3 separate regions of the Homo sapiens genome follow, and regions 2 and 3 are each linked to region 1. Evidence: fine-mapped expression QTL. A gene starts in region 1. Each other region holds a variant in brackets. All regions are shown on one strand. Distances are between the middles of the regions. Region 1 holds the start of AUP1 (AUP1 lipid droplet regulating VLDL assembly factor). Region 2 holds the start of LOC102724497 (a long non-coding RNA gene). Region 3 overlaps LOC102724497 (a long non-coding RNA gene).

The links. PIP is the estimated chance that this variant, and not a neighbour inherited with it, causes the effect.
Region 2: its variant is fine-mapped to the expression of AUP1 in cerebellum (GTEx, PIP above 0.99). The same link has a PIP of 0.9 or more in caudate, prefrontal cortex, spinal cord, tibial artery and unexposed skin.
Region 3: its variant is fine-mapped to the expression of AUP1 in gastroesophageal junction (GTEx, PIP above 0.99).

Annotation. Positions count from the first base shown.
Region 1 is chr2:74,528,181-74,530,939 of GRCh38, reverse strand. AUP1 (AUP1 lipid droplet regulating VLDL assembly factor) reads left to right here and starts at 1,234. Exons shown (of 12, transcript NM_181575.5): 1 at 1,234-1,360; 2 at 1,441-1,578; 3 at 1,658-1,808; 4 at 2,005-2,189; 5 at 2,451-2,523; 6 at 2,619-2,692. The coding sequence starts at 1,311. HTRA2 (HtrA serine peptidase 2) reads right to left here and starts at 1,007. Exons shown (of 8, transcript NM_013247.5): 1 at 428-1,007; 2 at 119-323; 3 at 1-29. The coding sequence starts at 933. RefSeq lists enhancers at 121-200, 231-300, 321-450, 906-1,788, 961-1,790 and 1 more and a silencer at 841-930.
Region 2 is chr2:74,714,360-74,717,118 of GRCh38, reverse strand. LOC102724497 (a long non-coding RNA gene) reads right to left here and starts at 1,820. Exons shown (of 3, transcript XR_427047.5): 1 at 1,744-1,820. RefSeq lists a silencer at 1,434-1,693. The variant G/A (reference allele first, on the strand shown) is at 1,532.
Region 3 is chr2:74,729,651-74,732,409 of GRCh38, reverse strand. The region is part of intron 2 of LOC102724497 (a long non-coding RNA gene); the gene reads right to left. Among named protein-coding and RNA genes, the nearest start is that of SEMA4F, 77 kb to the right of the region's middle. The variant T/C (reference allele first, on the strand shown) is at 1,664.

The sequences.
Region 1 (2,759 bases):
CGTCCCAGAGGCAGCGTGGGGAGAGGCTCCTAAGGGAGAATGGGTAAAAGAGACCTGTCATCTGAAGATGCGAGCAAATAAGCAGCTCCAACCAGACCTGGCCTACCCCAGCCCCCACCTTAGTCTGAATCCTCAGCGTTGCGATGTCTGCCACGGGATCCACAGCTGTGACCACGGCCTCATACGTGTCGCCGCTTAGCAGTCTCACACGGACTCTGCGCCGATCAGCCACCACATGGGCGTTGGTGACAATGAGCCCATCGGCAGCCACCACGAATCCTGAGCCGTTCGAGATAGGGACCTCGCGGCCCAAGAAAGGGTGCCTGAAATGGAGGGAAAGCACAGATAAGAGGAGGCTCTGACCCCTCCTACCCGCCCGCCCTCCAGCCTGTGGCTTCAGTGCCTCCCGGTCTACCCCCACCATTACCGGTCCAGGATCTCGATATAGACCACGGCAGGTGCTGTCTTCTCCACCACATCTGCGATGAAGTTGTACTGACTCCGGGGAGAAGCGGGCGGCGGGCTAGGGACGGCGGCGAGGACGGCCGGAGGACCCCGACCCCCGCCCCACAACAACAACAGCACTGCCCCCCCAGCGCCCAGCGCCACCGCCAGCCACGCGCGCGAACGGGTTCCAGAGTTCTCTGAGGCCTCCCGGGTCCTGGTATCTGGGGTCACCGCAGTCAGTTGTGCCCGGGGACCCGGGGTCCCAGACGTCAGGCATGCTCGGGGTTCAGTGACCCCAACAGACAACCGGGCCCAGAGACTGGGGGTCCCATAAGTCACTCGGGCCCGGGGGTCAGAAGTTCCTGACGTCAGCAGGGCCCGGAGGTCAGGGGTCAAACGGGGTCTCCTCCCCCAGCGAATGCCCCCCAAAGCCCGCCATGCCCGAAGGCTCCAGCCTGCACCCCGCCCCGCCCTCGGCGCAGCCATCAGCTCCGCCTTGGCTGCCTCCTCGCCCGCCCTACTCAGAGGCGGCACCCAGGACGCGAGCAGGCGGACAGTAGGACGCGGGGCACGCCGGTACCTGAAGTCCTTCAGAAGTGCACGCCGGGACCAGGATTCCGGGAGGCCGACTCCTCCCTGCCCCACGAATGCCGGGAATTGTGGTCTCCGCCGGACGCGAGTTGTGAGACGGCCCAAGGGGCCGCGGGGTATGCTGGGACCGCTAGCCCTTCCGGCGCGCCTCAGGACTTCGGGTCCCCTCACCCCGGGCGGATGCCCAAAGACTCCGCCTTCCCAAGAGCCCCTGCGGCCGGGCGCGAAAATGGCGGCGGCGGCGACGGCCGGGCGCTCCTGAAGCAGCAGTTATGGAGCTTCCCTCAGGGCCGGGGCCGGAGCGGCTCTTTGACTCGCACCGGTAAGAGACCCGGCGGGAAGAGACCGATCCCCGCGTGCTCTCGGCCTTCGGCGCCTGACCACTTCGCCTCTCGCCCCCAGGCTTCCGGGTGACTGCTTCCTACTGCTCGTGCTGCTGCTCTACGCGCCAGTCGGGTTCTGCCTCCTCGTCCTGCGCCTCTTTCTCGGGATCCACGTCTTCCTGGTCAGCTGCGCGCTGCCAGACAGCGTCCTTCGCAGGTTCCGACGCGGGCGTTCGGGGAGTGTCAGAGCTGGGTCTGGCCCGAGGCCACACAGTCACCACCTCCTGTGTCCCCAGATTCGTAGTGCGGACCATGTGTGCGGTGCTAGGGCTCGTGGCCCGGCAGGAGGACTCCGGACTCCGGGATCACAGTGTCAGGGTCCTCATTTCCAACCATGTGACACCTTTCGACCACAACATAGTCAATTTGCTTACCACCTGTAGCACCGTGAGTGAGAGCGAGGCCGAGAGCGCCACGGGGCGGTTCCCTGGGGCCCAGCTGAAGGCCCCCCTGTCCCCACTCGCGTTCCCCATGGAGGATACTGAGCCTTACCCCTAACCCCGATCCTCTACCCAACATGTCAGTTTTTTTTTTCATTTTCCTCAATATTTTTCTTCTTGCTTTCTCTTCTCCTGGTTCCCAGCCTCTACTCAATAGTCCCCCCAGCTTTGTGTGCTGGTCTCGGGGCTTCATGGAGATGAATGGGCGGGGGGAGTTGGTGGAGTCACTCAAGAGATTCTGTGCTTCCACGAGGCTTCCCCCCACTCCTCTGCTGCTATTCCCTGAGGAAGAGGCCACCAATGGCCGGGAGGGGCTCCTGCGCTTCAGGTGGGTTTAGCACAGGTATGGGGCGCCAGCTGGGTAGGTGGTCAAGCTTGTGGGCCCTTGAGTTTTTACAACTTTCTTCGGCCCTTAGACCCCATCATCTCCAGTTCATTTCCTTTCTGTCCACTTTAAGTTCTTTCTCCTGAATCCCTTCATTCTTCAATTATGTGCTTGTAGAGTTTGACAGTTGCCTGTTATAAGGCAGGTGTGAGCTGCTGACTAGGCTGGCTGGATTCCCATCCTACTTTCTCCTTCCTCTTCTAGTTCCTGGCCATTTTCTATCCAAGATGTGGTACAACCTCTTACCCTGCAAGTTCAGAGACCCCTGGTCTCTGTGGTGAGTGTGTGTTGAACAGGGAATCTCTGGGGCTTGAAGGGGAAATTTCCCATCCCTGGCCCTGGCTTAGGCCTCATCTCATGCCCTCCCCTCAGACGGTGTCAGATGCCTCCTGGGTCTCAGAACTGCTGTGGTCACTTTTCGTCCCTTTCACGGTGTATCAAGTAAGGTATTAACTGTCCTCACATTTTGGTCGCTGGGGAGAGGCTCACCTCAAGGTCAAGGAATTAGTGGCC
Region 2 (2,759 bases), 190 kb before region 1:
TCAAAGCTCACAGCTAGTTCAGATTATACTTTCAGAAAGTAGAATGAAAACAAGTCAGGGCAATATTTAACAATGTGTTTAATCAACTATAATCAAATTTCATAATGTATAATCTAGACAGTCATTCCCGGGTGGTCAATCTAGGGAGGAGTCTGTAGGAATTAGAAGGTGAGATGGGGAGGGGCAGAGGCAGAAATCTTCACCAGAAGGTTGAGCAGACAGAAAGGCAGTTGAATTCAGGTCAGGAAAGTAGGAGGAAAAATAATTTTACAGGAGAATAATCATACCTGCTTTCATGGAGGTGGGGGGCAAGTGGGACGGAGTGTAAACTAAGAGGAGTGTGTCATCTACTTAGTTAATGACTCTTTGTCTTGCAGTACTGGTGGAGGACAATGGACACCAGCTACATTGTTCACAAGTGGTAATTATCATGACTACAAACACCAGGGATTAATACTTACCTATCGAAGACCATATGAGTAATGGGTGTCTCCCAAGCCTGTAACTGAAAGCACCTTCTAGACTCTAAGGCCCTACTCAGGTGCTGCTTTCTCTATTATACAACTTCTATTCCTGGAAAATCAATGTTGATTAAAGAAGTTTCTGGCCAGGCATGGTGGCTCATGCCTGTAATCCCAGCACTTTGGGAGGCTGAGGCGGGCAGATCACCTGAGGCCAGGAGTTCGAGATCAGCCTGGCTAACATGGCGAAACCCTGTCTCTACTAAAAATACCAAAAAAAAAAAAAAAAACTAGCCAGGCGTGGTGGTGGGCTCTTGTAATCCCAGCTACTCGGGAGGCTGAGGCATGAGAATCACTTGAACCCGGGAAGCGGAGGTTGCAGTGAGCCGAGATTACGCCACTGCACTCCAGACTGGGTGATGGAGTGAGACTCTGTCTTAACAATAAATAAATAAACTTTCCTGAGTTTTTGCTTTTTCTATTTTGAGGCTCCCAATTGCTGTTCAGGTTAATAAGGTCACAGCTCCATGCTTCACCTAAGAGAAGAGGGTTTACCAGGAAGTCCGACTTGCCTCTTAGCCACAGATGGTTGTAAGGCATGAGCCGATTGTGAGTTGAGGTGTAATTTAAATAATCCTAGAAAGAAACGCACATGTCTGAAATTACACCCTTATATCTCATGAAGTTGTATCCAGTTCCCTTCCTAACAAATCCAAGCATTCCTGACGAAGGACACAGAAAAGTCTCTAATCTTTTGGCTTGAATGTGATTAGCATCCTTTAAGAGGAGGAGAGAAGGCATGGAACGAGACGGAGGAGGACAGGTCCCTGAGCAGGAAAGGTGAGGGACAAAATAACCCGCACCCTGTCAGGTCTAAAGAAGCCTCCTGTCCCTCGCCTGCAGACCTGGGTCGGATTCCTCTGCTCCCACAGGGGACAGCAGTACGGGGGAAGGCAGCTTGGTGGAGTCCGCAGGCGTCCCCCGCTTGGAGGTGCAGCGCGGAGCTCGCAGTCCCCAGGCGGGAGAGCGCGGGAGGGCGGCCGGCGGGCTCAGGTCCTCGGTGGCGGGGG[G/A]GGTGCAGCCATGTAAGGCCTTACGAAATGTGCAGAGCCGGCCCTGGCGCCGGCAGTACGGCTGCGGAGGGACGGACACCCACGCGAAAGACCGCCCCAGGCCCTGCCAGCCGCGGACTGCGGAGGCTTCCGCACAGGCGGGCAAACCGCGCTGCGTCCGCCCCGCCCCGGCCTGCCCTGAGCCGCGGGGCTCCAGGGCCCACGACGCTTACTTAGGTGGAGTTTCCAGTTGAGCTCGGCTCGAGGGTTTAAATGGATGATGTGTTCCATCCGAAGTCGGAGTTCATGTGATCTTACTTTTGTGTCTAACTCCGTTCTCACCTCTATCCCTAAATTACTCTCTTCGGCTCCCACCCCTGAGCGCCCTCGCCTGACAGCGATCGGCACTCGTGCTGCCACCTGCAGGTGAAAGAGGAAATTGAGCGAACTCAAGTTGGGCGGCCCACTGCTGGAGGAGGGCTTTCAGGACAGGGTAGCGGATATTCCAGATTACTGGAAATCCTGGAATTACTAAGATTTAGATATATTACGCCCAAAGAGCACAACAATTGGCAAGAGACTTGATATAGCCTTCACATCCTCTGGAGGTTTTCCTTTGGTTTGTTTTTCCATTATGCGGATTTGGCAGGGGATGGATGATAAATATTTGCACGAATGCAATTTAGGGCTGTAAAACATATGTTCGCCACCAGGTCTTGTAATCGATGCACATCGGGCAGAGCTGGTTTTTTTTTTACCAGCGCCACCTCCATGATGTTACTGTGATTTCCATCATGGCAGGCTCTGCCCTGCCTATATTGCTCAGAAAGGGCCTTGTGCCATGACCAGTGGTCATACCTGGGTCATTCCTAGCCTGGCGGGTTACCCCATTACAATGTTCTCTGTGCCATAGCAAGTCTTTTTTCACGCATTCCGATACCATGATTTTGAAAATGAATGATTGTTTTTAAAATCATTTTAGAATAATTCCATTAGCATTGTGGTTGAAGCGCCCTGGAGTCAGGCTGCCTGAGTTTGAACCTGACTCCAGTTTACTTACTTGGTGACCTTGAGAAAGTTATTTATTCTCTCTGTGACTTAGTTTCCTCACATACTGAATGGGAATAATATACAGGCCACATAGGATTGTGCGTTTTAAATGAGATAATACACACAAGCACAGGAATATAACATAAAAGAGGATGTGCTCTAAGCTCAAAATGTCCAAGAAAAAAAAAAAAGTGCTCTG
Region 3 (2,759 bases), 200 kb before region 1:
ACCCCCACCAAAAATATTTAGGAAGCTCTGCAGAGAGGAAAAAAGCTATTCGATCAAGGATCTGGGATTATTTCTACTTTGAAACTACTCATTATTAGAAATAACTACAGAGTTCTAGAGACAGAGATTAAGAAATAAAGTCCTGCAAAGATATATTTGTTACTCTGCTTTCTTAAGAACTTATGGGAATTACACATTAATGTTTTGTTTTTGGTTTTGTTTTTCCCCTGCATAAATGCCTCTGTTTTGGTTTCTGCTTCTCAGCTTCTGAATGTCACCCACCAAGAAGCTGTGAGCTGGATGCTCCACAGATATGATATACAGAGCCTTCCCTGCTGGCCTTTTTCCTTCCATCTGGAGATCAGCCCGGGTCCATAGGTAAATCACATCTTCCTACCTAATAATGACCAACTGCTAAAACCCAGGTAAGAGTACAAGGCTTGGAATTGGGGAAAGGGAAAAGGCAGCATTTTATCAGCTGATTCAATTTTTTGTTTGTTTTAAAGGCTTTTTAAAAATAAACTTATTTTGGAATAATTTTAGAAAAATTACAGAAAAGTTGCAAAGATAATACAGAGAATTATCATATACCCCTCACCTAGTTTCCCCTAATGTTACCATCTTATATTACATGGTACACTTGCTAAAACTAAAAAAAAAAAAAAAAAAAAAGGGTACATTATGATTAACTAGCCTTTATTCAGATTTCACCAGTTTTTCCACTAACATTCTTTTTCTGTTCCAATTCAGGAAATCACATTGCATTTTGTGATTTATAATTTTTAAGTTTAAGCTCTATTTTTACAAAAGTTAACATGTCCACAATTGAAAAAGGAAATGATCATACATGACTTATGAAAGGCAATCTTCTGCCCAAACCCTCCTTGCTTCTAATTTTCTCCTTCCAACAGCAAACAATTTCAACTTTCTCACTTTTTTCACCCTCTCTCCCTCGGTCCAGCCACACTGTTCTCTGAACATTCCTCAAGTATGCCAAGCCTATTCACATTTAAGGCCAAATCTTTGCTCAAGTTTTCTCTTTGTCATGTCTTCTTCCCAATAAAGTCTACCCAGACAGACCACTCTATTTAAAATTGTGGAGACTTCTGGTTCTGAAATGGCAGAACCAGAAACGAGTGTAGAAACAAGCTGGTGTAGAAACAAGCTGGCTTCACTCACCCCAAAGAAAACCAAGATCAAATATACAGTGCTGAGATTATCACTAGCAATAAATTATAACTCAAATATGAAGATGAGAAAGTTCTCCTGGCCTCAGAGAAGCGAAAAAAACTCCAAGCAGATGGTAAGAGACTTGGACTTCCATATCTGTGACACCCCTTTCCCCAGTCTGCCTAGCACAAAATGCATAGAAAATTTCCCCTGACGCATGGTTTCTACACTGGAAAAAGTGAGTTGGGGTGGACAACCAGCTTGCCCACCCTCTTGGTTCTCTGTCAGGAGACCTGTCCCTGCCTCAAACCACAGGATGCACTGGGAGTGCTTGAAAGGAGAAATCACCCTAAGGAAACTGAGGAGGCAGGACTACCATCTCCAGCTGTGAAAACTGCTCTCAGCCAAAGAAGACACCAAATTAGAGCAGCACCACACTGTAGGTTTGTTCCACATATCCTTGGGCATAAACTCTTAACCAGCCTTTCGATAT[T/C]ACCAGGATATTCCCCCTTGAGACCTACCCCATTCAGTACTGGTGGTACTCTGGTTGTTTAATAGAACCAGGGCAAACCCGGGCTTAAGGCACCATTTAGTGCCAAAAAGGAGGCAGCAACCTAGCAGTGGAACATAAGAAAGAAAATCAACTGATAAATTACAAAGAATCTCTAAGCAAACATACCCAATAAAAACCAAAACAAGCCAGACAAAGAAGACTGGAATAACTAATCCTTCAATGCAAAAACATAGACATACATCCACAAGAAACGGCAGCCAGTAGAGTGCTATGACTGCCTCAAATGAACAAAGCAAGGAACCAGTAACTGACCCTAACAAGATGGTGATATATAAACTCTCTGACCAAGAATTCAAAATGGCAGTTTTAAGGAAACTCAGTAATTTCCAAGATAACATGGAAAAGCAATTCCAAAATTTGTCAGAGAAATTTAACAAAGATATTGAAGCAGTTTTTTAAAACACAAATCTTGCGGCTGGGTGCAGTGGCTCACACCTGTAATCCCAGCAGTTTGGGAGGCCGAGGCAGAAGGATCACTTGAAGCCAGGAGTTTGAGACCAGCCTGGCCAACATGGTGAAACCCCATCTCTACTAAAAATACAAAAATTAGCTGGGCATGGTGACGCATGCCTGTAATCCCAGTTATTCAGTTGGCTAAGGCATGAGAATTGCTTGAACCTAGAAGGCGGAGATTGCAATGAGCCAAGATTGCACTGCTGCACTACAGCCTGGGCAACAGAGTGAGACTCTGTCTCAAAATTTAAAAATAAAATAAAATAAAGTATAAAAAATCACAAATCTTGAAACAGAAATACGTTTACTGAACTGAAAAATTCATTAGAGGCTCTCAACAGCAGAATGGATTAAGCAGAAGTAAGAATCAATGAGCTCAAAGACAGGCTATTTGAAAATACACAGAGGAGAAATGAGGAGAAAAAAAAGAATGAAAAGAAATACAGGTCACCTACAAAATATACAAAACTACCTCAAAAGACCAAATCTCTTTTTTTTTTTTTTTTTTTTTTTGAGATGGAGTCTCACTCTGTCGCCCAGGCTGGAGTGCAGTGGTACAATC